7 separate regions of the Homo sapiens genome follow, and regions 1, 2, 3, 4, 6 and 7 are each linked to region 5. The links come from fine-mapping of genetic effects on gene expression. A gene starts in region 5. Each other region holds a variant in brackets. All regions are shown on one strand. Distances are between the middles of the regions.

Region 1 (4,212 bases), 30 kb after region 5:
TGTCTCTAAGACCTGATTATCCAGTTGCCAGCTTGTCTCTCCACTGGACTATCTCAAAGGTTCCTCACCTTTCACAGGCTCTACCCCAAACCTGTTCCCTATCTCCAGCAAATGGTGCAGTCAAACATTCACTGGGGCAGGCCAGGCACCTAGGAGCCGTTCTTGATGTCATTCTCTCCTAACTTGTATCCCATCTGTCACTCAGTCCTGTGGCTCTTCCCTCTTGAATAGCTTGACTCCATTCACTTCTTTCCATCTCCTTGGTCACCTCATTAGAACTGAGCTATCCCTGTCTTTTGCCAGGACTATTGCAGTAGCCTATTAACAACTTTTCTCATATCTGTTCTCCCTTCTCTCTCTTTCGTGTCATCCCCAAGTTTAAGAGAAATCTTTTCAAAGATTTCTTCCCTGACATCTGATCTCTTCCCTGACAATCTGCGCTCCATCCATGAGTCCCCTTCCCCTTTTTAAGATCTTTAAATACATTTCTTCCTGCCATGGGGCCTTTGTACATGCCGGTTGGTCCTGGTTGGAACACTCTTTTCACCCTTTTCCCTTTGCCTGGTGCTTAGCCTTCAGATTGTGCTCAAGCCTTAAGGAAACTCTTCCTGCTTTTAGAGATCTGTATTCCTTTATTTCAGAGGGGTTATAATATTTCATGTTTTTGATTCATTATTTTGATTGTTTCACCTTTTCTCTCCCATTATTGTAAGTTCCAATAGAGCAAGGGTCTCTTTGCTTTTCATCACCGTTGTACCTCAGTACCCAGCTCTCAGGAATATTTGTTCAATGAATGAAACCAATGGGGTAGGTAGGACAAGTATTTTTATTCATTTTCTTTTTACACAAGGAGGTTGATTTTTTTTTTTTAAAGAGCAGATGCTTGGCATTATTTTATTTCTAACTTTATAATATGGATATTTCTGCCTCTGATAGGTTCCCTGTGCCATCATTTCTCGGTCTTGGCTCGTTCCAGATTCACTTCAGCAGAGACAATGATGAGCAGTTATTGGTTTGGAAATACTCCCCAGAACATGCAATGCCAGCTCATAAAATGTTTTCAGGTTGTTGGAAATCTTGTGAAAACGTGCATAGTTAACTATTGGAGAATTTAACTGTGAATATGAATGGGGGAGCCATTCATCAGAAGCCCTGTCTGAATAATTGATTAAACAATGCCAGGAGGTGTGTAAGAGAAGGATTTGAAGACTGAGTTGTAAAACTATGGCTGACTAGTAGGGTCCCTCTTGGCAGTCTCACTTTTTTGCCTCGTGGCATTAGGCATTAGTGTCTCAGATCCATCATAATAAGTCTCTGGGCTTACTAACTGTGATCTTGTGTCGGATGGGCCCTGTGCTGCTACCTTCTTGACTTTAGGATATCTCTTGTTACCTTTTTGCTACTTGCTCCCACCAAGGAGCACAGCAGACTCCAACTCACTCTAGGTGAGCTTTCCTCTAGCTCCCGAGGGTCATGTGCCTCTCCATTGTGTTCAAAGAGAATAGGCGCCGGTGGGCCGCTGTCTGGGAAACTCTGTGTTCCTTGGTGCGGTACTGAACCTATTTAGTTAAACTTGATCAACTTTAGCACACCCTCACCAGGAGTGTGTGGATTCTCCTTGGGACCCAAGTCTTCCGTACAAGGCAAACAAGTTGGAATGGGGACTTCTATGATTAAGGTCATCGTTAGTTGAAGAATTTCAAACCATTTTAGTTTTTCATGATATGCTATTTCTTTTTTTTTTTTTTTCATTATTATTACACTTTAAGTTTTAGGGTACATGTGCACAATGTGCAGGTTAGTTACATATACATGTGCCGTGCTGGTGCGCTGCACCCACTAGATATGCTATTTCTTCAATTTCTCATGTGGATTTGGGGTGTGTGTGTCTGTGTTCTCTCATGTGTAAATATTTTCATAGAGGCCCTGAAGCTTCTTTCCTATATAGGGATTTGGGGACATTCCCCCAAACAAGAGGACTTTGTTACCAGGGTGTCCATTCTGGGGCCTTGCTGGTATGAAAATGCTCCCTGGGTTGATCCACAGTGTATTTATTCATGAATGTTACAGGTGCCTTAGAGTTTAGTTCCCTTAGGTGACTGTGGAATTTAAAATAAGAAATCAACCTTTATCCTAGGTTTTTCTTTTTCTTTTCTCTCTCTCTCTCTCTCTCTCTCTCTCTCTCTCTATATATATATATATATATATATATTTTTTTTTTTTTTTTTTTTTTTTTTTTTGTAGAGAC[G/A]GGGATCTCACTGTGTTGCTCAGACTGGTCTCAAACTCCTGGCCTCAAACTATCCTCCCACTTCAGCCTCCCAAGTAGCTGGGATTACAGATGTGAGCCACCAAACCTGGCTTCCTTTTATTTATCAAGAAAAAAATACTGTTCTTATTGTTCATTACAAAAAGAGTATTACCTCATTAAAGAAACTAAAAAACAAGCAAAAAAGACATCTCTCTGTTTTGTTTTGTTTTGTTTTGTTTGAGATGGAGTCTTGCTCTGTCGCCCAGGCTGGAATGCAGTGGCATGATCTTGGCTCGCTGCAACCTCTGCCTCCTGAGTTCAAGCAATTCTCCTGCCTCAGCCTCCCAAGTAGCTGGGATTATAGGTGTGCACCCTACTCCCGGCTAATTTTTGTATTTTTAGTAGAGACGGGGTTTCACCATGTTGGCCAGGCTGGTCTCGAACTCCTGACATTGTGATCCGCCCGCCTCAGCTTCCTAAAGTGCTGGGATTACAGGCCTCCCAAAGTGTTGGGATTACAGGCATGAGCCACTGCGCCCAGCCAAGACATCTGTCAAAAGCTCATTATGCACTCCCGAAACTGCTGTTAATTTCTCTTGTGTTAGAGTTCAGATTTTTTTTATGAATACTTCTTTTACATAGCTATTAATAAAACATATTCATATAACTATTGTGCCATGCCCTTTTGTATTTAATAATGGACATTTTCCTATTTTAATACTTAGCCATTATTTTTTTTTTTTTAAGGAAGTGAACAAATGAAAGAATGGCTACTCCATAGACAGAGCAGCCTATCTATCACTTTTTAATGGCCGTGTATTGTTCATTGAGTGTATGTTTTGTAGGTTCTTAAGTGACATCCAATTATTAGGATTTTAGGTTATTTCCCATTTTTCCCTCTTTTAAATAAGTTGGCTTAATGTTTAATTAATAGTTTTAGAAAAATGGAAAGAGCAAGAATATACATTAGAAAACAGACCCTGGCCTTTTTTTTTTTTGTACCATCCAGAGAAGTTAATGATTAAGGTAAGAACTTATGATAAGGTTATTTACAATGGGGAAAGAGATCCAGGGGATTCGGGTTGCAGAGAGTAAGGACCGGTGTTTTGTGTGCACTCACACATCACAGCCTAGCCGCAAAAAGATCAAGTTCTGCGGTGTCTGCAGTGTTGCCTTAGTGTCCTTCATACAATGTCTCCCCCCATCCAAAATTTTTTTTTTTTTTTTGAGACGGAGTCTCGCTCTGATGCCCAGGCTGGAGTGCAATGGCGCGATCTCGGCTCACTGCAAGCTCCGCCTCCCAGGTTCACGCCATTCTCCTGCCTCACCCTCCCGAGTAGCTGGGACTACAGGCGCCCGCCACCACACCCGGCTAATTTTTTGTATTTTTAGTAGAGATGGGGTTTCACCGTGTTAGCCAGGATGGTCTCCATCTCCTGAACTCGTGATCCGCCCTTCTTGGCCTCCCAAAGTGCTGGGATTACAGGCGTGAGCCACCACGCCTGGCCCCAGTTTTTTTTTTAAACATAATTCTGACTCTGGAAATAAGTAGGCACCTTTAAACTCTGTGTAGACTTGATTTTGTTTTTTCTTGAAGTTTGTGTGTATCTCTTAATATGTGTGCTAACTTAATTTAGGGTCTAGGTTCATGCTGATGTTGGAAGCATGCCATTCTCCAAGCTTTTTAAAAATATGGATATTCTTAAGTATCTCACACTGAGGCACCCAGCTATAAAGTAACCGTAGTGTAGGTAGGTGCACACTGCATAAACACTTCTTCTGTAAGCTGGAGAAATAGCTGGAGGAGAAATCTGTTCTTAGAACAAGGCACATGCTGTTGGTTCCAGACATTCTTTTTAGTGGAGGATACAAAAGTGTGTTTAACGGTTGCTGGCCCCACGCCTGCTGTCCAGCCCTATGGAATGTGCTCTGTCTGGGCCACACTGCCAGTCATCAAGGCAGTT
Region 2 (4,212 bases), 89 kb after region 5:
GTGAGCAAGATAGAATGTCTATCTGCAGCCGGGCACGGTGGCTCATGCCTATAATCCCAGCACTTTGGGAGGCGGAAGCTGCAGTGAGCCGAGATCGAGGCACTGCACTCCAGCTTGGGCAACAGAGCAAGACTCTGTCTCAAGAAATAAAAAAAAAGAAAGAAAGAAAAAAAGATGTAGTGTCTACCTGTTCAGAATATGGTAACACAGAATCAGTAGACTCATTAAAGTGTCACTGCTTACTCCCTTGTCAGTCCATCTGTGTAGATGATGAAGGGTTGTAGACAGAGGCCTCTGCAAGTGTGCTAGGATTCCTTTCTCAGTAGCTACCTGAGTCTCTTTATTAGGCTGGGCTCTCTGGTCTATATTAGTCTCCTTGCTCCACAGAATTTTAGTTACTTTATTTATTACTTTTTTTTTTGAAACAGAAGTCTCATTCTGTCACCCAAGCTGGAGTGCAGTGGCATGATGTCAGCCCACTGCAACCTCCGCCTCCCGGGTTCAGTGATTCTTGTGCCTCAGCCTCCCAGGTAGCTGGGATTACAGGCACCAGCCACCACGCCTGGCTAATTTTTGTATTTTTAGTAGAGATGGGGTTTTACCATGTTGGCCACGCTGGTCTCGAACTCCTGACCTCAAGTGACCCGCCCACCTCAGCGTCCCAAAGTGTTGGGATTACAGGCGTGAGCCACATGCCCGGCCTAGTTGAATTATTGTAAAGTATGTAACTAGCAAAGCTCAGAGGCATGGCCTTGCTCCTGTGTATGGGCCAGATAACTTTTCTCCTTTCCCTACCAGGATTTTCGTGATTAGATACCATCAGTCATTAGGAAGCCTTAATAATAACATCATTAATATTAATTATTAATAATTATATTAATTGTATTATAACATTATTAATTATTAATATTAATAAAGTTATATATAAGAGAAAGGATGTGGCTTGGTGCACAGTCCCTACCCCAGGGCAAGCTGGTGGAGGCCTTTGACTCTTTAAAATTTAGTTCCCATTTTCCATGGTGATTGACTCGATTTAAGTGCATTGTGGCTATATGTAATTTACAGGCTGCTTTACGTTGCAGGCAGGGAAAACTCCCAGGCTGGTGTGAGGCTGAACTGGGATAAGAGACCCCCTGGCCCCTCCTTATTCTGCTAAGGTCACCACCTCTTAGAAGGTCTCTTATTTTCTTTCAGTGATCAAATGCACAGTTACGCTCTACAACTAAATTCTGTAGTCTTGGGAATCCTCACCAGTATCAACTATAAGTTGCTTTTTAAAGCCCCCAAAGTGGAGTGAGGATAGGGGGAGTGGAAGCAGTGTTTGGTTCTTACTTTACCCAAACTATGTATAAAGAATAAAGTTAGCAGAATGATGCCACAAAAAAAAAAGTACCAGAATATTTTGTAATAAAATGCCTTTATAGTACTATAAAAACATAGAAAAGAATATTGATATAGTTTTGGGCTTGAGCATTTGGCTTTCAACTTTAGAGTTCTGAGTGTTTTTCTTTTTCTTTTTTTTTCTTTTTTCTTTTTTTTTTTTTTTGAGATAGGGTCTCACTCTGTTACCTAGGCTGGAGTGCAATGGTATGATCACAGCTCGCTGCAGCCTCAAATTCCTGGGTTCAAGTGATTCTCCTGCCTCAGCCTCCCAAGTAGCTGGGACTGCAGGTGCACGCCATCACAACTGGCTAATTTTTGTATTTTTTTGGGGAGACG[T/G]TGTCTCACTATGTTACCCAGGGTGGTCTCAAGGAAGTTCTGAAGGTCCTGTCAGCTGTAATGCCAAGTTTGGCAATGAGAAAAAGGTTAAGAACTAAAATGACTCCCTGTCAGGGAAGTTGCCTACACTCAGCTATTCTCCAGGATAGGCAGGGCTGTCCCGAGAGGAAGACACAGGTGACAAATAGCTCTCCTGCATGTGTCTTCAAGGCTGTGATTGGTTTTTAAAAATTGTGTTTGAAATTCTTCCTCCAGGTTGATTCCTCGTGCCAGACCATTATTCCTAAAATTAAGCTGGAGCCTCATGAAGTGGATCAGTTTCTAAACTTCTCTCCTAAAGAAGGTCTGTCTGCCCTCCCTGTGTCCCTTTGGGTTATGGATATGGTCTCTGGGTCTACAGAGAGGGAATATGGCGAGAGAGCTGGGATGAGTTTGTACCACAGATGTTGTAGCTGGCTTTATGAAATAGCTCTGTTCTTAAAAAATAAAAATTTTGCTTCCAAATAAAAATTTTGCAAGCTAACTATTATTTTCCCATATATGCACGTGATTAAATTTCAGCTAAGTGTTACCATACTTTTACTTCTAACCAGGGTGATATTTTTCAAAACTTTTATGGACTGCTACTACAAACACTATCGAACAAGAGAACTGCAGCCCTTATTCATCCAGGCGTGAACCCTACGTAGCCCCACAAATCAACAACCATCTACAAAAGCACCTTGCTTATTTCAAACAACTCTAGTTTCAACTCTTTGTGAAGTAAATTCACAATTAATTATGTGGCCAATTCATTGTTTGTAAACATTGACTTTGAATGACAACTATTGCAAGGAGCCCCCTCTCTATTTGGTCATGTTCATGGTTCACAATTGTGCATCTTTTTGGGCTTCTTGACATCCATCCATTTAGAATTAACACATCCTTGAGGTGATCATACTTTTTTTTTTTTTTTTTTGAGACAGAGTCTCACTCTGTTACCAGGCTGGAGTGCAATGGCACCATCTCGGCTCACTGCAACCTCTGCCTCCCAGGTTCAAGCGATTCTTGTGCCTCAGCCTCCTGAGAAGCTGCAATTACAGGCGTGCACCACCACACCCAGCTAATTTTGGTATTTTTAGTAGAGACGAGGTTTTGCCACATTGGTCAGGCTGGTCTTGAACTCTCAGCCTTAGGCAATCCGCCTGCTTCGGCCTCCTGAAGTCCTGGGATTACAGGCATAAGCCACCACGCCTGGCCAAGGTTGTTATATTTCTATATTTATCTTTCTCTATGTCAGTTTCTTTCTGAGTTTCTCCCTCTTTGTTCTCCTATGAAGCCCATAGTTAGGAATCCTGGATGCAGACCCCTGAGCCTCATGAGGTCTAATGAAGCTCTCTCTGCCTTGCGTATGCAGATTCTCCGGCATACATCCTGCTCTTCTCACTTCTGTGCCTTCACTCATGCCATCACTTCCCTTTTCATTCATACTTTTTATTTATTTATTTTTTGTGTGTGAAACAGGGTCTTACTCTGTTGCTCAGGCTGGAGTGTAGTAGTGCCATCATGGCTCATGGCAACCTCAACCTCATGGGTTCAAGCGATTCTCCCACCTCAGCCTCCCAAGTAGCGGGGACTGCAGACATGCACCACCACGCCCAGCTAAATTTTGTATTTTTTGTAGAGATAGGGTTTCACCATGTTGCCCAGGCTGGTCTGAAACTCCTGAGCTCAAGTGATCCTCCCATCTTGGCCTCCCAAAGTGTTAGGATTAAAGGCATGTGCCACCTCACCCGGTCCCATTCATACTTTCAGTACAAATTTCAAAGTACAGTTCACTACTGTGGTCAACAAATAAGAAATTGGCTTATACAGTTGTCACCGAAAAGGTATATTTGCTACGGTATATAAATGTGAGGATGTTTACATATGAGCACTTCTCATGAAAATATCGTCTGTCTTCATTCCATTAGAAACTAACTCAGGATTTGGTTTGTAACAATGTAATCAGGGCTGGCCCTTTATTTGCCTTTATTATCAATAAAGAAAGGATTAAATTTTAAAAGTTAATAATACTTAGTGAAATAATACTTAGTAAATAATACTTATTTACTTAGTAAAAGTTAATACTTAGAATCCATATTGAGACACTATGTCTTTGCACTGAGTGACAGACAGTAGTGCCTTTCAGCTTTATGTACTGCTTCAAAGTAATTGCTTTCGTTTGTATAACACCAGTTATTACTATCAAATGCATCTTACTCTTTTAATTTATGCTGTGATGTGGTTCAGAAGTGTCATCACCATAACAATGAATCCCATAGTGGCTTCTGAATCCAGGGTTATTGGAGGAGAAATGTTTCAAGAATGAAGTTAAGGACAGCCCTTCCTCATTATCCTGGATAAACTGAGATAAGGAAATTCAATATCCTTGACTGCATCAGTTTCTAGGCACAGTAGCTTGTTGTCCCCAGACCTTGCAGTAACCCAAAAGCAGCATTTCAAATGATATTT
Region 3 (4,212 bases), 150 kb after region 5:
GGAGACTCACAAGTTTGGTGCTCAGGTGCAATCAGTCTGTATCCTCAGAGGTTCCTCCAATCACTGGGGGATCTGGGTTCCCTAGCAGTTGCCATAAAGAGCCAGTAACAGAACCTGGAGGTGAGGGTGAATTAATTAGTTCTCTAAGGGACAAACTTCAACCAGTTTCAACAGGAGACAAGAAGACATTGGCAGAGAATCTCCACTCTCTCCTGTGGACAGAATGTTTCTGGATATAATGATGTAGGTCCTGTCTGGAAGAAGTGCTGGTGACCAAGAAAGCAGGTATGTTGTTTTGTGATGCTGTAGTCATTCATAACTCGCCACCTTGAATTTACTTTCCCCTCCTTTTCAGCCTTGATTCTCTTTTTCCTTCATTCTTGAGTCCTGGAATTACAACTTCACATAAAGTCTTGGCTTGTAAGTTTTGCCTCAGGATCTGTTTTCTAGAAAACTCAGACAAAAACAAACACAATACAAAAATATGAACCATAGTTCAGGAATTGTGCTCAGGTTCATGGAGGTGCTCAGGTTTCTGCCGTATATTCACAGGGGCACCGCAGGATATATTAAAATTTTGAAAGAAACTCAGAGATACTTGACATTTGTTAGACACCATGCATACTACTGACTCAATGTAGTTGATAGTTTCAACACTAGATTACACTACATTCTTTCAGTGACATCATTATGTTTGCAAAGCTGGGTTTTGGTGGTTGCAATTTCATGTGGTATTAAGGAGCAATACCACATGAAAATTAGTGTGGAACAGGAAATGAAGGTGGTGGTGTCTAATATGATCCTAAGATTTGAGAGGTTGTGTCATGCCCATTACTATCCCATTGGTAAGTGATTGTGGCTGCTTACAAATGAAGTACAAACATTTTTTCTTTCAATTTATGTTTTTTTCAAATAGCTACTAATGTTGTCAAGAAGTAAATGTTTATTGAATTGTTAGCATCTGAATACTTAATAAACATAAGTGTTAGGTTCATCTTCATAAATCTCAGCCTAGAAGTGCCAGGAAAAATAATTACTGAGACATTCAGTAAAGGGTGGTGTGAACTGAGAAAGTCTGGGAACCTCTGAGGTAGAGCTTTACGGGCAGGCAGGAATAAGCTCAGCATGTGATGTGGTTTGGCTCTGTGTCCCCACCCAAATCTCATCTCGAACTGGAATCCCCATATGTCGAGGGAGGGACCTGGTGGGAGGTGATTGGATCATGGAGGTGGTTCCCCATGCTGTTTTCAAGATAGTGAGTGAGTTCTCACGAGATCTGATGGTTTTATGAGGGGCTCTTCCCCCTTCACTCTCTGCTCTGCCTCTCCTACGGCCATGTGAAGAAGGTCTTTTCTTTCCCTTCATCTTCTGCCATGATTGTAAATTTCCTAAGGGTTCCCCAGCCATGCAGAACTGTGAGTCAGTTAAGCCTCTTTCCTTTGTAAATTACCCAGTCTCGGGGAGTTCTTTATAGCAGTGTGAAAATGGACTAATACAGCATGTATGAGAAATGGGATGTTAGGAGAGCTGAGTCAGAAGGTGAGGGACTGCAGGGATGGAGGAGGCACAGGAGAGACCAAGTGGGGCCTTGTAGGCTTTGACAAGAGAGCTCAGTTATCATTTCTGTACAACATGATACATCCTGGAAACTTAATCCTGGAAACTTCTTTTTCTTTTTTTCCTCAGTGACAACATTTTCAAAAGCTCTATTATCTTTTCCTGGTTTTATACATAACTGAGGTCTCCAATGTGTGCATATGCATGTTTAAATGTGTCACTTTTTAAAAAAACATTCTGTGTTATTTCTGGAAAATTCCTGAAATTCCTGAAAACTACATACATTTAAAAATGTTAAATATAATGTTCTCATTATTATCTGGTCTTGCAGTCTTATCTAGACTTAAATTTTTTTTCTTCTTTCTTTCAAACTTCACATTGAAGCCCTTTTATCAAGCTCGGCATTTAGGAGACTCAAGGTTGGTATTTAAGACTAGGATGACACCTGTTTTAGATTGAACAGTAATTAATAATAGAAAGGTG[A/G]GTTAGGAAGCTCACCAAATGGGGCATGGCTTTGGGCCCAGTCATGGAAATATTGTCCATCTGAGGTCTGAGATTATACTTCCAGGTCCAGACACTGGATGTTTCAATATACCCAGAGATGCTCATTTTCTTGGTTATGTACTTATGTTACTCAAAATCACATGCAATGCAGTTTCAAAGCAGAATGTCAATTTATTTTTGTGATTAGAATGCTTTTGACCCATTTTCAAGGATTCCACTTTTTAGTGTCAAGGAAACTAAGAAGCAGGATGAATAATTACAAGGTTACTTGGTGATCGTTGAAAAATAGAAAGGAAAATAAATTGTCTAAGAGAATGACTAATATTTTAAGTAACTTCTCAGGAGATCACCCCACAACAGAATTCATTTGTCTTTTGCTGGAATTATTTGTGCTTCCCAAATGTCGCTCTGTCTTAAGTTAGAGTTAATGTTCAATGACTGTTTTTTTAAAAACCCAATATTCCTCTGATTAGCAACCCATTAATACACTATTTAAACATATAAATACACACTTGAGAGGTCCAGCTGGCTTTTCTGATAGGCTGGGAGACATTCTGTTGGCATGTACTTATTGAATCAGGCAAAACCTCAAGACTCTAGCTAGAGCCATTCAACTCCGCTTCACTGTGACCATTTTCTTATGTATCCTTCCAGAAATATTATATCTCTATAGATCTTCTTTTCTCCATAAATGATAGCATACTACTAAATACTCTGAGCATTGTTTTTCTTTTTTTGTTAACATTATATATTTGAGATTGTTTTATATTAATGAATGTTAACTTGCCTTATGTATCTTGACAGTTCCAGAGAATTCCATTGTTTGGATGAATAACAATTTAGGTTGTTTTCAATCTTAAATCCTTGTGTATACCTACAAGTATATCAGAGGACGAATTTTTAGAAGTGAAATTGCTTAGTTAATTAGGTCATGCATTTCAAACATGGATAGATATTGTAAAATTTACCATCAGAGAGATTTTACTAGTTAAAGTATATCAAAAATTTGAGGAAGCATTTGTTTTCATACCCCCTCATCAATACCATCTATTATCAAACTGTTTGTTCTGAAAAATGACGTCTTTCATTATGTTCACAACGATGTATATTTCTTTTCTCAGTCAATAAACACTTCATGATGGTCTATGATATACACACTTATGCAATTATGTTACCTGTTTATTATTACTGAAGATATAGTGATAAACAACATATAGCGTTTATATACATGTGGGATAAATAGACACATGACAGTTGCAGTGGTCCAAGTTTAGTACAATGGTGCAATGGGAGCTATGGGAGGTACGTCCATCACAGTCTAGAAAGGGATCATCAACGGAGGCTTCTAGTGGGGAGAAACATGGGGAGAGACATGTAAACTAAAATCCGATGGAGGTGTAGAGTAGTTGGCTTGGCAAATCTTAGGAAAAGGAGAAGCAAAGAAGAGGAGACAGCAGACTCACACGTGCAAAAATGGGAATGGAGAGAGCAGAGAGCGTGTGGGGTTTGCACAAAGAACAGTTCAGAACCTCACTGTCATGACAGTATGAAGGGAAAGCGGGCAGTACTCCACCACCCACCAATGTAGCCCTCAAAATCAGCTGAGTTGTTTGAACTTTACCCTAACGGCAATATGACATAATCAAAAGATTTTTAAGTGGAGGCGTGAAAAATCAGAAGTATTTTGGGGCTCACACTTGAGATTGGATTGGGGAAGATACGGCTAAAAGTAAGTGGGAGTAATGAGGGGGCTGTCCCAGTAATTGGGTTCAGATGACATTTGCTTGATTTTAGGGATGTACGAGATATTCGTGGATCTTGTGTTGAAGCACCTAATACACGATGTCCCTTCTGAAGACGGGTGCATTAAACTGGGGTGAAGCACAAAGGCCACTGAGCAGCCTGGCTTGACTCCTGGCTTTGCCAGTTTGCATTTGCACGTGTCCAAGCCCTTGAGAGGTGCTGTGAAAACATAGAGGTGGATGAGGGAAGTGCTTATACAGCACATACCGTATAAAAAGAGGGCTTCATACTTGCTAGTTGTTTTAATTTTTATTATTACTTTTCCTCGCTGCACATGGAAATGTCTTTACCTTTGTCTTATTATAAGGTACATACGAGGAGAGTTACAGAACATGGGTGTTAGAAGAG
Region 4 (4,212 bases), 66 kb after region 5:
TATGTCCTCTGCCCCACACATTCATAGCCTCCGCCACTGTCAACATCTACCATCATATTGGTAGACATGATGGTAGATACATTGACACATTGTTATCACTCAAAGTCCATAGTTCACATTAGGGTTCACTCTTGTGTCGTACATTCTATAGATTTGGACAAATGTATAAAGACGTGTCTCCACCATTATAGTATCCGTGTCAGAGTTCCACTGCCCTAAAAATCATCTGTGGTCCACCTATTTATTCCTCCTTCTCCCAGGGTGACTCCTTTTACAAAATATTGAATATACCCTACCAATGGATTTATAATAGGTTTCCTTTAAATATCATCTCTCAATGCCTTTATTGCTTAATCTATTTCACATACTTCATTTACAAAAAAAAAAGGTTCATCTGGATACTACCAAGCAAGGTGTACATATATTTATTTATTTAATTTTTTTTTTTTTTTGGTAATAAGCCTCTTTAAAACACAGCTTTTGTTACTGCTAGTGAAATTTCAGTAAAGCAAATATCACTTCAGAACAAAACACCCTCCCCAAAATAACCCCCACCACAAATCTCCAAAACTCTGGTGTAATAAAGAGTTCGAAGCTCAGCCCCCATTTTTTAAAAATTAAAGAAATATGTAATGGGCCTACATTTTTGTACTAGAAAAGAATTGGGTATCCTTGAAATTTCACTGTAATGGAGTTTGACTTGTGAGCCATTTTTTTTTCTTGGGACTTTGACAAGGTCACCTTTTTCCTCATGGTTGGCATCTGGCCCTTTTCTGTGTGTTGTGTGCAGGGTACTTGTGTGAGAGCCACTCAGGTCTAAGGTGCACTGGTTTTGAAGGCAGGTCCCTTCTCTCCCTGCAAGGGGAGGAGGGAGGGTGGCCTAGGGGATGCCAGGAGCCCAGGGCAGCTCCTCCCTGCCTGAGCAATACAGTCAAACTATGTTTTGCTGGAAGGAGGCCTTGGTTTCTAATGTGAATTTGAGCTGTGTCCTCTGAATCATTTATGGAGAGGATCAGCTTGCTCTTGCCACACTCCCTTCTTCTATGGCTCCAGTCTTTGGGAGGCATTCTGTGCTCTAGGTAAGGCTCCTAGCCACGATTTTTAAGTACAGAGGCTTCTTCTCCTGCCTGCCGGAGAACTATCTTTTCAGCCAGAGACTGGCTGCAAAGCTTCCCTGTTTCCCAGAGGGCAGGGCTGGGAATTGAATGCTTGGGGAGCTCAGAAGGAGCCCCGGCAGGCCTTGGGCCTCTTGTTGCCAGCCCAGGTTCTGCTTTCTGAATCCTATTACCTGCCGTGGCCACCTGCTTCACTGCCCATGGGCTGGCATTACAGGGGCAAATCTAAACAAACCCGGGAGGCAGAAAGAGGGTGTTCTCTGTCCTCCTTTTCCCAAGTTGAAAAACCTTCGTAGCTCCATTTTATGTTGCCTGCAACATTTTAGAAAATGATAGGGTAGTAGAGCTGAATAGGTTGTTAGCAATGACTTATAAATATCCCTGTGTTATTACTACTTTCTCTGCTGGCAGGGTTTAGCCCGGGATCCATGGAATCCCCCTGCCGTCTGCAGACAGACTTCAGGGGCGGGTCAGCCTCCTGAAATGCTGGGCTGTGTTTGTGTGTTTGTGGCTGTGAGCATTTCTCAGGCAGGACTGTCATTAGATTCCCAAAAGGAGCATTAGGTTGTCAGGCAGGAGCATTCATTAGATTCCCAAAAGGGTCTAAGAATTTAAAAAAGGTGAAAAAAGGTGACAAACTACTGATCAGGTTTAAAGCCTACCCTCATCCCCAGTACACATAGCACTCACACACTCACATGCACACACGCACACACACAGAGGTTTACAGGTAAGGAAACTGAGTCTAGAAGAGGCAGACTGACCACCACTGAAGTGCAAGGCTGGGACTAGAGAACTCCTGTCCCTAACTGGTCTGGTGCAGCACTCTTCTGTTAGCCTGTGCACAAAAGAGGCCTGTTGGGCTGACTATGGGATGGCACAACTGCTTTAGAACACGCTCTGCAAGTTCTCTGGATGATGGGGCACAGGACATACATTCTGGCTAACTCATTTTGCACCTTGGGATAACTCTGTCTTTATAAGACTGACCTTTATTCATCTTTCTGCCCATGCTCCCACTGTATTTGTTGAGTGGGCGAACCTTAGTGGAGAGTACTGTACGGAAGACAGGTCGGTAGCTTTATGCAGCCAGTTATTTGAACTAAAGAATTATGAATCCTTCCTTTTCCTCCCACTTTGTTCCCCTTTCCTCACCCTCGTGACCTC[T/C]GATCTTAGGGCAGTTGTTAGCAGCAGGAAGTGGCCCAGATCATAAACCACTCCTTCCTTGCAAGCTACTTTGGCAGTTCATTAGTGACCTGAAAACTCAAAGCGTAAATGCTTCAGAGCCGAGGTAATTTTTTATAAAATAAGTAATTCTTATAAGGATAAAAATTTCTCCTAATTTATCTGATTTGTAAATTTGGATATACATTTTAAATGTTTGAAGGCACTTATTTATAACTGTTGGGAGATCTAGCCCTAATTTGGATTTATCTTCTATTTCGTTAGGATGTTATAGAATGATAATAGATGCAAATGAGATAGTTGTTGAATGCAGCAACTATCTACGATCTATGATCTCTGATCTGGGCTAGGTCCAGAGAGAGGGGTGGGTAAACGGTTTACATCTGGGCCATAGAGTTTGGAAGGCCTAGTGATAAGATATTTAAGTAACTTGGCAATGAAAGGAACATCAAAGAAAAGGAAAAATGTGTCAAATTAAGAGATACTTAAAGGGCTTTACTTGTTTAGGGAAATGAGAGATCAATTCAAGGTGTATCTGTCTAGGGATGACTTTCTAAAAGAAGTACATTTGTTCTGTCTTAGGTAGTTTCCTGTTTGGTAAAGATGAAAATGAAAGCATATTCTAGGAAGAACAATGCGAGAAGCTGGTGTGCAAGTAGAAAATGCCAACATTTTATTGTTTTAATTATGTTAGTTTTTTAAAAGAGCTTTTTAAAAGATTGCTATGCAGTGAAGTGTTAGGTGTATTACGTGCATTATTTAGTTTAATTCTCATGACACAAGGCCGGAACTATTGTTAACTTCACTTTGCCGGCATTATTGTTAACCTCATAAACCAAGGTTTGGAGTATGGACATATCTTCCTCAGGCTTGCACAGCCAGGATTCAAATTTAGGGCTGACTGACTCCAAAGCTACATTGCCACAATGCCATACTGTGACCATTAGGATTGCAATGAAGGTGTTGTGTTTATAAGAATAAAGGGAGACAAAACTTTATGGGATAGTTGCAGGATGTTTAATTCAGAATCTTAAGATAATGGGGAGATAAAACTTGACACAAATTTTTAAGGGAAGTTGCCATGTGTATTCTCTGAACTGGGTGAAGAACATTTATGTTGTGAGGCAGGGGTTCAATCCTATTAGGAGGTTTCTTCCAACTGAGAGATTCTGTGATGTTGCTTGAATCCTTTGGCAGAAACATGCATTAAGGCCGAATAAGTATCTCCATCCTTATTGCTGATGTATCACAGCAAGTGATACCAGGAGCCTCTCCTTCTAACAAACTCTTGGCATGTTTCTACAGGTTTAGTGCAGGAGACCATGTGTTCATAGCGGATGACCGTCTGTGAGCCTATCTTTATCTAGCTTTAGAGGCTGACACAAATGAGGGAGCATGCTGTAGAAAGTGCCTGTGATTTGGAACTGGCTGAACATGGGCTAGAATATCAGTTTCACCTTTCATCAGCTGTGCATCTCAGGGCAAAATAGCTAATTATCCTGAGCCCCAGTTTTCTGATCTGTAAATGGGGACATGTTTTCATTTTCTGAAAATCGAGTATGTCAAGTACTTAGTCCATCACACAAGTCTAGCACCTAATCCTGACAACATCATTATCCATGATCATCACCATCATGGTTTTACACTTGTTAGAACCTCTCCATACAGTTGTATTGTGAGGCTTAAATATCTCTTTCCTAGGAGAAACAATAAGGAAAAAAAATTCAGTCAATTTGACATGAGTACCCTAGCTCAAGGTCTCTCAGTAGGGGACAGAGATCTTGGACAATGGACTAAAAGCCAATTTACAGGATTGTCGTGAGTATTGAGTGAGAAAAAGGTTATGAAATTATTTTGTAAACTCATAAAGTTTGATTCAAATATTAGAATGCTAAAATGTTATTATGCCATT
Region 5 (4,212 bases):
GAGGAAGAGGAAACAAGCAAGTCAGGAGCCATAATCTTTTTGACATCTTCTCGTTTTTGGCATATTCTGTTAGAAGAAAGTCCTCAGGTCTAGCCCAGACTCAAGAGGAGGGAATTACACAAGAGCGTGAGCACCAGGAAGTGGGATCACTAGATGCCATCTTGGAAACTGGCTACTACATGGGGTATAAGCAGGATTAGACTTTGTCAAAAGCAGAAATGCTTCACGGATAAATGTTTGTATTCCTACATTAAGGAAGAGGTACAGATGGTTCCTGACTTATGACTTATGATTTCCTGACTTTATGATGGTGTGAAAGAGATATGCATTCAGTAGAAGCTGTACTTTGAGTTTTGAATTTTGATCTTTTCCCGGGCTAGCAATACGCAATATGGTATTCTCTCCTGGTGCAAGGGAGCCATAGCTCCCAGTCAGCCACACAATCATGACAGTAAATAACTAGTACTGTGTTGCCAGATGATTTGGTCCAACTGTAGGCTAATATAAGTGTTCTGAGCACATCTTAGGGTAGGCTAGGCTAAGCTATAATGTTTGATAGGTTAGGTATAGTAGATGCATTTTTGACTTACGATATTTTCAATTTATGATGGGTTTATGTGGATGTAATCCCATTGTACATTGAGTGACAGATTAAAAAAATAAGAAAGGTCTTTAAAAATGGAAAGAGCAATCTATGGAAAGAATGTGATGAAGGGGATACCAGGCTGGAAAAGAAAAACCAAGAACCTAAGAGAAAAATGAGAAAACTATTATATAAGGAAGGTGTGTGCCCATAAACTAGAGCTTCTATTTAAGCATTAAAATAATCTCAAAAGCTGGGCGTGGTGGCTCATGCCTTAAATCTCAGCACTTTGAGAGACTCAGGAGAGAGGATTGCTTGAGCCCAGGAGTTTGAGGCCAGCCCAGGCAACAAAGTGAGATCTTGCCTCTACAAAAAATTTAAAAATTAGCCGGGTGTGGTGGTGCACATCTGTGGTCCAAGCTACACAGGAGGCTGAGGCAGGAGAACTGTTTGAGCCCAGGAGGTGGAGGCTGCAGTGAACTGAGATCGTGCCACTGCACTCTAGCCTGGGTAACTGAGTGAGACTGTCTCAAAAAAAAAAAAAAAAAAAAAAAAATCTCAAAAGACCCCAGAAGATAGGACCAGACAAATGCAATAGTTTATATGATAAACTGCTGCTTTAAAGACAACATAGAGTTCAAAGACATTTGTCTCCACCCGCCAAAAAATACTTGCCAAGGAAACAACACAATAGCTAATACCTGAATGTGCCATTGTAAGAAACTTCTAGAGCTAACTGGCAAAGACCTGCTTTTATATTTAAGATAGGTAAACTATATTTTTGGAATTAAAAAGGAGGAAGAAGAATCACAGTGTTCGGGGGAATTCCTTTAGAACAGGCCATCTCTTCCCTATTCTAGGAGGCAGGCCTGGTGCTCTGGCCCTGGCTCACCTTTCTGGCCTTTCCCACCCCTCCCTGCCAAGCACCTCTGCTGCAGCCACACTGGCCTCCCCAGCAATCACGTGAATACCAGCTTCCCCCGAAATCTCATTTCCTTTAGGAAGAACTTCCCTGATCAGCACGTAAAATAGCATCGATCTTGACGCATCCTGTTTTCCTGCTTTTATTTTTCTTTATAGCAATTTCCACTTTCTGAATTTAAATGTTTATTTCTTTGTTTATTGCCTGACTCCTCTGAGATAAAAGCTCTATGAATTCAAGGACTGGGCTCACTTCTGTAGGACCTGGAAAAGCATGCCATTGACTCTTATCAAGCAGATGAAAGAAAAACATACAATAAGTGAAGTCCATAAAAAATAGAAGAACCCAACAGAAAATGGGCGAAAAAGGTGAAGAACAATGACAATTTCCTAGAGCTGCACTAATATAAATGTATGTGCATGAGGAATATTTGTATTTTTGTATAATATGTAATCCATTAAAAAAATTCCGAGAGATTCAAATGAACTAAAGTACTCGAAAATGTTTAAGCCCCCCGCGCAACAACTCTCGCGCCCCCTGTCGGCGCGCTGGTAAATTTCTGAGGATTCTCAGCAAGAGGACTGAACTCACCCTCCCTCTTTTACAAAATGTATTCTTGTCGCTATTTCATTGGCTGTACCTTTCAGACGCCCCTTTCACATTAGTCAAGCCTCCAGTCCATCACTTCCGGACCCAAGCCCTCTATTGGTCAGCTGTAGGCGACAGCAGACAGCGGGCCGCGCTCAAGCAGGAGGAGTTCCTCGGTGACGTCACAGACACTCCCCGGCTACATTCCAAGGCGTGGGCGGAGACTTCCCGCGGCCTCTGCCTTTGGGGGCGGGACAAAGCCGAGAATGAGACTTCTGATTGGGTCTGCTAGGCAAGGCGGATATCCAATTGGTCAAGCCTTGGAGGGAGGTGGGGCCGCAGCTGGGTCCTGGAGCAGAGCCGAGGAGCCCTGGGGTCCCTCAAAGTTTGTGTCTGGAGCCGTAGCGGCAAGTGGGCTTGCGGCTAAGGGATTTTCCTGGGATGAGAGCGGGTCTTCTGCCTTCATTTTGGATGCACATCCCGCTTTAGCCCCGGCAGCCTTTGGTCCGGCTCGTGTCCCTGGGGATTCTCGGATCTCCGAGGACACCGGACGGGAGCGCTTGGCCATCCTCTCTCCGGCAGAGGAGCAGACGTTTGCTTTCCAAGTGCAAAACTACAGACACGCGCGCGCACACACGCAAGCACACGCGGAGAGAGAGGAACCTTGCCGGTCCGAGGCAGCTCTGCGCGTCCCCTCCTGCGCTTAGCATCCTCGGCCCAGCGCGGCCCGCACCGCCATGGAGGTGCTGGAGAGCGGGGAGCAGGGCGTGCTGCAGTGGGACCGCAAGCTGAGCGAGCTGTCAGAGCCCGGGGACGGCGAGGCCCTCATGTACCACACGGTGAGGACCCGGCGGGCGGGGCAGGAGGGCTTTCAAAGCGGGCAAGTGTTGTCACGCGAGGAGCAGCTGGAGTCCTGGGACCCGGGAAGGCAGGGTTTGGGGCAGGGCATGGTCAGAATCAAGAGGTCCTGGGCGAGGTGTACTTTAATGTCTGAGCAGATGAAGGCGGGCAGCTGGCCCCTTTACATTTCTCATGAGAGTAATGCCACTTTGTATTCCTTTAACAATTCATGCTTTTTTCCCTGAGGCTTTTTCCATCTGTAATATCATTTGCTGTTGTTAACAGTACTGTAATGCGGGAGAGGGAGTGTGTGTTTTGAGAATAACATGCCTCCGCCTAGTTTGCTATTGATTTTTTTTTGAGGTTTTCAAAAACTGGACAAGATTAAGTAGCATTTCCTTTTCATCTGTCTCGTATTCTCTCTCCCTCTCTCCCTCCCTTCCTCTTCTTTCATATTTATATTTTAAAAAGTACACGTGTGTGTGTGTGTGTGTGTGTGTGTGTGTGTGTGTGTGTGTGTTGAAAGGGCTCCTCTACGTTAGGGAGAAAGGCGGCTTTATTTGCTTTCTTAAACTGTACGACCAAGAAGTCTCCTTCCTCCCTCTTCGGAGGAAAAACCAGCAGAGGAGTATGGAAAATCTGAGACAGTTGCATATTTAAGAAAGGCTCTGGGGAAGGTGGGACAGCTCACCAGTTGCTTGTTCAGTCTTATACTAATGCCTCAGAGATCTCTTGGGGGATTAAGCTGTCCCAGAGCACGCACATTTCTTTTAAAGTTTTTAATGTCAAGTTTTTGGTATTAAGTTTGCAAAATGAAATTTTGTTTTCAATAGCCAGCACTGATCATAGGACTTTATGCAAGATCTCTTTGTTTGATTCTTATCCATGCAGACGTTTGTAATGGGGGTGGGGCTGGGGTGAGGGGGGACACTAATGAGAAAACCACTGGAGGCTTGGCTGCTTCCCCTTCACGCTTTTTTAATGGGGTCAGTACCAAGATATTTGAAACTTTCGCAAAATGGCCTGCAGGCTCCACCTCTTTGGCCTTTGACTCTGGCTGACGTTATTTTGAGACAAGGAATGAGGGCCTCCCTGCTGATTCCCACCGAAGTATTTGTGGTGGCTGAGAGTGGCTTGTTTAAAAAAAATGCAGAGTGCAGGGCTGAGAGGGAGTGGTAGTTCATGCTGGGGCAAAAGCCAGATGTTCAGTGTGATCTTCTGGGCTTTGCTTGCTGAGCTTGTCATGGGGACACTATGTGGGCAGCACGGAGGTTGGGGT
Region 6 (4,212 bases), 110 kb after region 5:
AATATAGCATTTCAGAAATGCCCTCTGGTTCCTACAAAATAAAGAAGCCTCTTGTAATGTAGCAATTAACACAGGAAGAAAAAGGAGAAAATTTATACGCTTTTTTTTTTCATTTAGGCCAGAGCCCCATGAACAACCTTCAAAACTTAAGTAAAAGGCCATAAACATATAGGTATTTACTCAAGGTTTAGGAGTTTGAGCTGATATGGTTGTCTTTTGTGTATGACACACTTTAGTATTTAAATGTCTTTGAGATTGTTCATGATTTTCCTTAAATATCCTTATGAAATGTGTAGAACTTATAATTATTAACATTGTATCCCGCCACCTCCCTGCCCTCCATCCCAGGATTTTGAGGTAGAGGTTTCAGCTGTTGGACACCCCCTTCTCACCTCAGAACCTCCCAGGCACTAACTCTAGATGTGACTCGGGTGGGGTGGGAAGGGATTCAGGGGGGATTTTGCCTCAGAAGGACATGGATGCTCATCTCTTCCATCATGAGGTCACCTGATCATCACCTGAGTTTTGTTTTTTTGAGATGGAGTCTTGCTCTGTCACCCAGGCTGGAGTGCAGTGGCGTGATCTCGGCCCACTGCAACCTCTGCCTTCCGGGTTCAAGCGATTCTTGTTCCTCAGACTCCTAGGTAGCTGGGATTACAGGCACACACCACCACCCCTGGCTAATTTTTATATTTTAGTAGAGACAGGGTTTTGCCATGTTGGCCAGGCTGGTCTCGAACTCCTGACCTCAAGTGATCCGCTCACCTCAGCCTCCCAAAGTAGTGGGATTATAGGCATGAGCTACCGTGCCTGACCAAGTTGTTTTTTTTTTTTTTTAATTGTGTGCATTAGATAAGTAACACTCAGGCTTTTTTGATTGTACAATTATTTTACATTTTATGTAGTGTAAATGGCACACCAGACTACCACATGAACATGTACATATACATCATACACCTCACTAATATGAATGCTTCACAAATCGATAGTTCTTTACAGCATACAATGCCCTCTGATATTGTGTATTCTATTTGACTCCATTTCATTAAAAACATATATCAGTCACAACCCAATTGATTTCACAAACCCACAAATGGTTCATGATTTGGAATTTGGAAATGACTGCTCTAGGTGCTTCCATAAGGCTGTGAAAAAGTTCCTTCATCTCTGAAGGAGGCTGATTTACCCAGGGAATAGTTTACACACATACATATGGGCACACACACACATATGTGCACCCGCACACACCACTCCCCAGAGAGTTCCATTTCTAAGATGTGTTGTAAGATTTGATGGAAGTATGTGTGGCTGGGTGTGGTGGCTCACACCTGTAATCCCAGCACTTTGGGAGGCCGAGGTGGGCGGATCACCTGAGGTCAGGAGTTCAAGACCAGCCTGACCAACATGGTGAAACCCCATCTCTACTAAAAATACAAAAAAAATTAGCCGGGCGTGGTGGCATATGCCTGTAATCCCAGCTACTCAGGAGGCTGACACAGGAGAATTGCTTGAACCTGGGAGGCGGAGGTTGCAGTGAGCCTGGATCACGCCACTGCACTCCAGCCTGGGCAACAAGAGTGAAACTCCGTCTCAAAAAAAAAAAAGAAAGTATGTCTACAGAGAGGGCCTAAGTTGAAGCTCCCAACACAGCAAATAATTGGGAACCACCACTTTTTTTTTTCCTGCTCCTGGTTTCTGACTCCAGTGGGAAATTAGGTTCCTGAATGTTCAAAGTCCAACATTCAATAACTGTATGACTGTTCTCATTCTTTCTTTTGTAAATAAGGAAACACACACAAAAAGCAAAATTAAACCAAAGACAAAGAAAACATGAGACTGTTGATGCATTTCCCAGTTATTGTAAGATTGTGTCTCCCACTCTTGGATTCTTTTGAATGTTTTGCCCAATTTCCTTTGATATGCCTCCCAAGATACAGGGTGATGGTTTATTTTGGGCAAGGCTGACAGCTGCTTTCCACTGCTCTTTTGCAAGGAACTGCATGAGGATAGCCACTGAGTTTATTTTTACATCTCACCACAGGACAAAATCCACATTTTCAATCAAGTGTTGGACACTCCAATTTAACAAATTGTGAAAAATCTGTTGGCCCAGATAAACGTATGCTAAGAGTATTCCTTTCTCTAAATTAAGATTTTGTTCCCGGAAGCCCAAGAATTCATTAAGGCCATAATTAGCCATGATCACTGATGATTTAAAATACAATAATAAAGAGGAAGTTTATACTGAGCTTCATAGGCACCATTGGATCTGTCCTGCGGTTGACTTTTTATAGCTGTAGTTTAAAAATAACTTTTCCATTTCATCTGCTGGCTGTCTTTTCTCCACCCAGCCCTTCATGCAAGTAGGGTGGGGGCTGTCATCCAAGCTCCCATTGCTGCAGGCAGTGACATCTGTCTCAGTGACATCAGAGAAAGTGCCACATCATCTCAAACCAACATATCAGTTA[C/T]GAGGTCACAGGCTTTCCCATAAAAAGGACTGGCCTCATCTGTCATCAGTGAAAAGAGACAGCAAGCACTCTTCAAAGATGTATTTGCTTCAGCAAACGCAGAGTTACCCTGGGAGGGGGCATTTTCTCATTATTCCATGAGCTGATGTGGTCAAGGGAATTCATCTGAGTAGCTGCCTAAACTCAGAACTTAACTTGATTAAAGGCACATAGCAGTCATCCTCTGATTGAAACTCAGGTGTCTTTGCCTTTAGAGCCAATCCTCCTGATATATATATGCATCAGCTTAGCAATTCTAAAGCCATCTCATCAGCTTTTTTGGTGTTTCACAGAGAGACAGGTTTTATATTTTCCATTTTTCTAAATAAAGCCCAGGCTTGACTTCCTGAACCTTAACTAGGCAAGAAGTACCCTTGATTCTTTTATCTATTATCTGCATTTTATCTTTGATGTATCCAGAGAAAATACCACACAATATTTATTTGCCCTGATGGTTTTTGTGTCATTGTTACTGAAATTTTGTTAGTATGCATCTCCTTGCCGTCAGAATGGGTTTTATTGTGGCTCTTCCGTCTATGGCTTAGTCTCTTTTAATAGTAATATTTTCATATTTAATGGTGGACATATCTCAGTTGGGCTGGTGTCAACATAATATTAATGTTACTGGAGTTAAGAAAAATCTACTTAACTAAGACATGCTTTATTATTAATTTTAGTAGGTTATTGATTAGGGTACCATGCTGTACCATGTTGGAATGTACACAAGCTATGGGGTCAGATAGGTTTTGGTTTACATCTTAGGTCCTCTACTTATTAGCTACGTGACTTTGAGATGCTTGCTTAGTATTTTAGCGTATGTAGTTCTTGGAACTCAAGTAGTAGGCACTCAGTACTCTGTCATTGTTCATTTTCTCTTTTTATGATGAAAAGGAGTGTTTCTGTTGTATGGATGTGTGTGAATTTCCCAAACTCTATTGGATCATAGAAGTCTGTTTGGATTCTGGGGATGACTGAGCGAAATGCCTCAGTGTTGCTGATTGATGGGGCCTTGCACATGTTGTCATTTCCACCATCAGTTCCGTTTACTTTCTCCAGCACCAGTAGGAGAAGCAATGGCAAACAGCATATTATTAGTCACTGTTGCGCTTTCCACCAACATTTCGAACTAAAAATGTGTATTTTAAAACACATGTTTGCTCATCTTAAAGAGTTAGATTATAAACTGTTAGAAATCAGGGACTATTAAACAACCATTTTCATTTGCAGTGGATTCAGAATATAGTCATCTTGAGTTGGGAAAGGATGTGTCCGTGAATGCCAAGCAAAGTGCTGTGCAGTCAGGAAACACCAGCCCTCTCTGCTCTCTCCAGCCCTTCTTGAAGGGTCCTTCTTCCCAACTTGTAGCACTTTACACCTGTGACTGGGGAATGGGGGATTCCAATTTGAGCCTAAGATATTCTTTCAGTGGGCTTCAGGTGTAGCTGGCCTGCTGAAAGTCTGTTTTCAGGAGGCACTGGGGAGCCTCCTAGGAGACTGTTCATCCTAGGGGAAGGGGTACAGGGCCCAGAGATATCAACCAGAAATTGGAAGGGAGGACTGATTCCTTGTGTGGATTTTTTTTTTAAAGCTATTCATGCTCTAAGGACTAGGCAAGGGGTAGGGGATGGGCAGGGAGGAAGTACGGGCTGGCTGCTGGTCAATAGGGATTGTTGGTAAAAAATGGAAGTGGTCATTCCCCTTTCAA
Region 7 (4,212 bases), 95 kb after region 5:
AGCAGTGGCTGGTACAACAGAAATGTGCACTGTTCAGAAAGAACAGTGAGACCCAAGAGTGCTTTCATTCACGTGGAAGCCTGGTTGGATTCCTCCTTCAGAAGCCCATCTCTGCTGCCCTGGAGATGCCTGATGGACGCTGACCAAGGCTCCATAGGCCCTGGCAGAGAGGGTGTTGTGCCTCCTTGAGGAAAGACGCGGGAGACTTTAGAGGAGAAAGTCCCCCCACTGCACTCTCACTTATTTTTCCTGTGCTCACTCCCGTATCTGAAGATGGATTTCATGTTTTCTGAATGAAGAATGCCTGGCGTCTTGCCTGCGGGCATGACCACGCACATTGCTCCAGAAACAAACCGGCTTTTTTCAAAGCAGCCACTCCGGCTTTTTGAGATGGATTCTCGCTCTGTCACCCAGGCTGGAGGGCAGTGGTGTGATCTTGGCTCACTGCAACCCCTAACTCCTGGGTTCAAGCAATTCTCCTGCCTCAGCCTCCCAAGTAGCTGGGACTATAGGTGTGTGCCACCACACCTGGCTAATTTTTTTTGTATTTTAGCATGATCTCGGCTCACTGCAATCTCTGCCTCCTGGGTTCAAGCGATTCTCCTGCCTCAGCCTCCTGAGTAGCAGCTGGGATTATAGGCACGTGCCACCACGCCAGGCTAATTTTGTATTTTTAGTAGAGATGGGGTTTCGCCATGTTGGTCAGGCTGGTCACAAACTCCTGACCTCAGGTGATCTGCCCACCTCAGCCTCCCAAAGTGCTGGGATTACAGCCATGAGCCACCTTGCCTGGCCCCTGGTCGCACGTTTATTGGTTTCTTGTATTCACTTCCAGTGTTTCTTTCTGCCAGTATAAGCAAATGTGGGTCTATATCCTCTTTCTCTCCTTTTTCATACAAAAGGAGGACTCCCATATCCACGCTCTGCACCTTGGAGATCTGTCCAGGTCAGCTCATGGAGGCCCCTCACACTTTAGTTTGCTATGCCACAAATCAGTTGTGTCCTGCTTTGTGGCTCTGGGATGGATGAGATGTGCTTCCTTTTTTGCAGCCCCAGTGGACCACCTGCATTTGCCGCCCACCCCTCCGAGCAGTCACGGCAGTGACTCAGAGGGCAGCCTGAGTCCCAACCCACGCCTGCACCCCTTCAGCCTGCCTCAGACCCACAGCCCCTCCAGAGCTGCACCCCGGGCCCCCTCCGCCCTCTCCAGCTCCCCTCTCCTCACGGCTCCTCATGTAAGTATGCAGCGGGCATTCCTGGACCAAAGGGAACCCTCTCCATTCATTCCCCTGGGGCTGTATCCAGAGCAGGACCACTCAAGGCTGTTTGGTTTTTACTTTTGTCAAGAAGTTTCTGCTTAATGGCGAAAGCAGAGTGATGTCAACCCTAAAGAACACTTTCTAGGAACTGCCCGCACATCTCACCTTTTACTACCACAATTCTCTTCCTTTTCACATGCACACTTCCAGTTTTTATTCATATGTTTATTTTACAGAGCTATAGACATGAGGAATAAAAATTTGGGGTTTTTCTCCTCAAAGTTCTATCATAAATATTTGCATTAATTTAATGGTCCTTGTGACCTATGTCATAGGAAATACCTTTTATATTTTAAAGAAGCAATTTTTGGTGAACTTAAAAATTACTCTGAGATTAATTTCTTTGATGCCTAAAGGTCAAAAACAGTTTAAGCCTTTTCTGTGTGTCATATGACTCTTAACCCAGAAACTCAGATCAGACATCAAGACCCCTCGTTCATCCCTCCCATACATGAGGACACCATAATAAAGAAGAATAGATCGTTAACTCCTTATTGTTCTAGGAGTGAATTGATTTCTATGAAATTTTAAAAATTATAATCAGCTATTTTGAATTCACAATCTCACAACTAGAAAATTTAAATGAAATGAGATGTTTTAAAATTCTGTAAGTACCATCCGTCCATTAATTAACATAACTTTGAAAATTTGTATTGATTCTGTCCCTGAAAGTTCTAGATCTGCAACCACATTCTTAAATTTCATCGTTACTGAGGACAAGGGAATTCACCCTTCCACTCTTTCTTCACCTTTTCACCTTGAACCTGACTTCACTCCTTGGATTACTAGAATAGCTTGTATCCTATATACCTGTGTGTACTACTATGATCTGTCCATTCTACATGTTTATGGAGGAACTCTTCCCCATGTCGGATGCTTGCCCAACAACTATGTTGT[A/G]TTTCCCTGTTACTTGTTGGTACCAAGCCCTGACACCTTTACTCATTATCAGGTATCCAACCCTCCGCTGCTTCAAGAACTCCTTACCCACACTAGGCAGTGGCTTCTTCAGTGACTTTTCAAAATACTGCCTTTTGCTTAGAATGCACTCCTCTCTCTTATGTAAATCATCCCCTTTCTTTCAGGAGGCCCAATTCAAATCTCATCTCCTGCCCTAAACGTTTCCTGATCACACAACTCATAGTAGTGTTCTCTTACTTCAAATTTTTAGTACACCTTTAGCTAATGTATTAGTCCATTTTCATGCTGCTGATAAAGACATACCCGAGATTGGGCAATTTACAAGAGAAAGAGGTTTAATTGGACTTACAGTTCCACGTGGCTAGGGAAACCTCACAATCATGGTGGAAGGCGAGGAGGAGCAAGTCATGTCTTACATGGATGGCAGCAGGCAAAGAGAGAGCTTGTGCAGTGCAACTCCTGTTTTTTAAAACCATCAGATCTTGTGAGATTCATTCACTCTCACAAAAGCAGCATGGGAAAGACTCACCCCATAATTCAGTCATCTCCCACTGGGTCCCTCCCACAACACGTGGGAATTATGGGAGCTATAAAATGAGATTTGGGTGGGGACACAGAGCCAAACCATATCAGCTAAGATTACAGTTTAGCATTTAATTACTCTTATCCTTTCATGGGTATCAGTTCAGTCTCACAGTCTTGATCACAAGCTGCTTGAGAGGTAGGGTTTGTTTTGAGTCCTCCATGGCATTTAGTATGGAGCTAAAATGCAATAGGGACTCTGTTTGATTAATTATAAACATGCCATTCTACTGTGGGTTCCATGAGATGTGCTACTGTTCTTGTCTTCATTGTTGATGGACATTCTGAGACTGCTGAAGCCAGAGGCTTCTGTGGAAAGAGTCTGCAGATGTGTCCCTGGGTGCTCTGCACTCTTAGCTAAAAGTGGAGGAGAGAATTGACTCCTGTTGTGTAGAGAGCACCTTATAAAACTGCATTTTCAGAAGGAGAACAACAAAATTCTTGCACAAAGCAGGGCTGCAAATGAATCCTTCATCACTCCAAGGCCAGGAAATCTCTAGGGATGTGGGAAATGACTTCTCTGCTTTTTCTTTTCATGTTTTAGCGAGTAGGGTGCTTCCCGGGAAATAATGGGTGGAGGCTTCTTTATTCTTTCCCTTGAATTATAATCCCTAGGTTATAACACTCACATGGGGGTGTCTTCCCCATCTTCCCATGCCCTTCAAAATACCCATCTGTCACCCAAAGCAGATGGGGCATCCTTGTCTCAGAGCCTTCTGTAAGACATTGTAACAGATTCTCATCATCCCATTGGGAGGTGATTCTTCAGTGGTCCCAGTTCTTTTTCTTTGACCCTTTTCTGCTCCTTGGTCTGCACAGAAACTGCAGGGATCAGGCCCTCTGGTCCTGACAGAGGAGGAGAAGAGGACCCTGATCGCTGAGGGCTATCCCATCCCCACCAAATTGCCCCTGTCAAAATCAGAGGAGAAGGCCCTGAAGAAAATTCGGAGGAAGATCAAGAATAAGGTGAGCTCTTCAAATCTAGGCACTTCTAGAGCAGAGACGAGCAGAATCGAGTCAGCATCCCTTTCCCTGCCTTCCCAACGGCCAGCACTACCCCATCCCATGGTGGAGACCAAGGCCCAGCCCTTCCCTTCCCTAAGCCCTGGGAGGAGCACCCTCACCACGTGCCCCTCTCTTCCTCCAGCCCATCCCATCCCTCTTGAGGCCAGCAGACTCCCAGATCAGTATCTACCTCTTTGGTGCCCACGATGATACATTTACGGGTGGGAGGAAGCTATTAGAATTTCCATCTAGTTTTTTTTTTTTTTTTTTAACTCAGCCTTTTAAATTTTGGGTGTATGATATATACAATAGTTTCCTCTAGTAGACATATATATGTACTCTATGTATCTATATAAAATACAGCATATATATATATTATATATATATA

Which allele goes with the higher level. Positions count from the first base shown, and alleles are read on the strand shown. Sizes are in standard deviations (SD) of each study's normalised expression. Not every link is listed here.
With allele A in place of G in region 1, the expression in subcutaneous fat of the gene that starts at base 2,450 in region 5 is higher (small effect, 0.31 SD a copy in TwinsUK).
As copies of G replace A in region 3, the expression in iPS cells of the gene that starts at base 2,450 in region 5 goes down (moderate effect, 0.64 SD a copy in iPSCORE).
In carriers of allele C in region 6, the expression in skeletal muscle of the gene that starts at base 2,450 in region 5 tends to be higher than with T alone (small effect, 0.33 SD a copy in GTEx).

The links. PIP is the estimated chance that this variant, and not a neighbour inherited with it, causes the effect. A credible set is the group of variants that fine-mapping cannot tell apart.
Region 1: its variant is the best candidate, but not a certain one, in a credible set for the expression of CREB3L2 in subcutaneous fat (TwinsUK, PIP 0.84).
Region 2: its variant is the best candidate, but not a certain one, in a credible set for the expression of CREB3L2 in whole blood (TOPMed, PIP 0.61).
Region 3: its variant is the best candidate, but not a certain one, in a credible set for the expression of CREB3L2 in iPS cells (iPSCORE, PIP 0.61).
Region 4: its variant is the best candidate, but not a certain one, in a credible set for the expression of CREB3L2 in whole blood (TOPMed, PIP 0.82).
Region 6: its variant is the best candidate, but not a certain one, in a credible set for the expression of CREB3L2 in skeletal muscle (GTEx, PIP 0.82).
Region 7: its variant is the best candidate, but not a certain one, in a credible set for the expression of CREB3L2 in whole blood (INTERVAL, PIP 0.64).

The regions. Positions count from the first base shown.
Region 1 is chr7:137,970,713-137,974,924 of GRCh38, reverse strand. All of the region lies in intron 1 of CREB3L2 (cAMP responsive element binding protein 3 like 2), which reads left to right. Among named protein-coding and RNA genes, the nearest start is that of CREB3L2-AS1, 19 kb to the right of the region's middle. The variant G/A (reference allele first, on the strand shown) is at 2,249.
Region 2 is chr7:137,910,841-137,915,052 of GRCh38, reverse strand. It overlaps CREB3L2 (cAMP responsive element binding protein 3 like 2), which reads left to right. Exons shown (of 12, transcript NM_194071.4): 4 at 1,975-2,062. Among named protein-coding and RNA genes, the nearest start is that of CREB3L2-AS1, 40 kb to the left of the region's middle. The variant T/G (reference allele first, on the strand shown) is at 1,720.
Region 3 is chr7:137,848,079-137,852,290 of GRCh38, reverse strand. No RefSeq gene overlaps it. Among named protein-coding and RNA genes, the nearest start is that of DGKI, 3.2 kb to the right of the region's middle. The variant A/G (reference allele first, on the strand shown) is at 2,041.
Region 4 is chr7:137,934,064-137,938,275 of GRCh38, reverse strand. All of the region lies in intron 1 of CREB3L2 (cAMP responsive element binding protein 3 like 2), which reads left to right. Among named protein-coding and RNA genes, the nearest start is that of CREB3L2-AS1, 17 kb to the left of the region's middle. The variant T/C (reference allele first, on the strand shown) is at 2,283.
Region 5 is chr7:138,000,324-138,004,535 of GRCh38, reverse strand. It overlaps CREB3L2 (cAMP responsive element binding protein 3 like 2), which reads left to right and starts at 2,450. Exons shown (of 12, transcript NM_194071.4): 1 at 2,450-2,932. The coding sequence starts at 2,831. LOC124901752 (a long non-coding RNA gene) reads right to left here and starts at 2,229. Exons shown (of 3, transcript XR_007060551.1): 1 at 2,146-2,229. RefSeq lists enhancers at 2,151-2,200, 2,431-2,500, 2,591-2,680, 2,229-2,826, 2,771-2,910 and 2 more.
Region 6 is chr7:137,888,973-137,893,184 of GRCh38, reverse strand. The region is part of intron 8 of CREB3L2 (cAMP responsive element binding protein 3 like 2); the gene reads left to right. Among named protein-coding and RNA genes, the nearest start is that of DGKI, 44 kb to the right of the region's middle. The variant C/T (reference allele first, on the strand shown) is at 2,469.
Region 7 is chr7:137,905,275-137,909,486 of GRCh38, reverse strand. CREB3L2 (cAMP responsive element binding protein 3 like 2) reads left to right here. Exons shown (of 12, transcript NM_194071.4): 5 at 1,051-1,235; 6 at 3,639-3,785. Among named protein-coding and RNA genes, the nearest start is that of CREB3L2-AS1, 46 kb to the left of the region's middle. The variant A/G (reference allele first, on the strand shown) is at 2,217.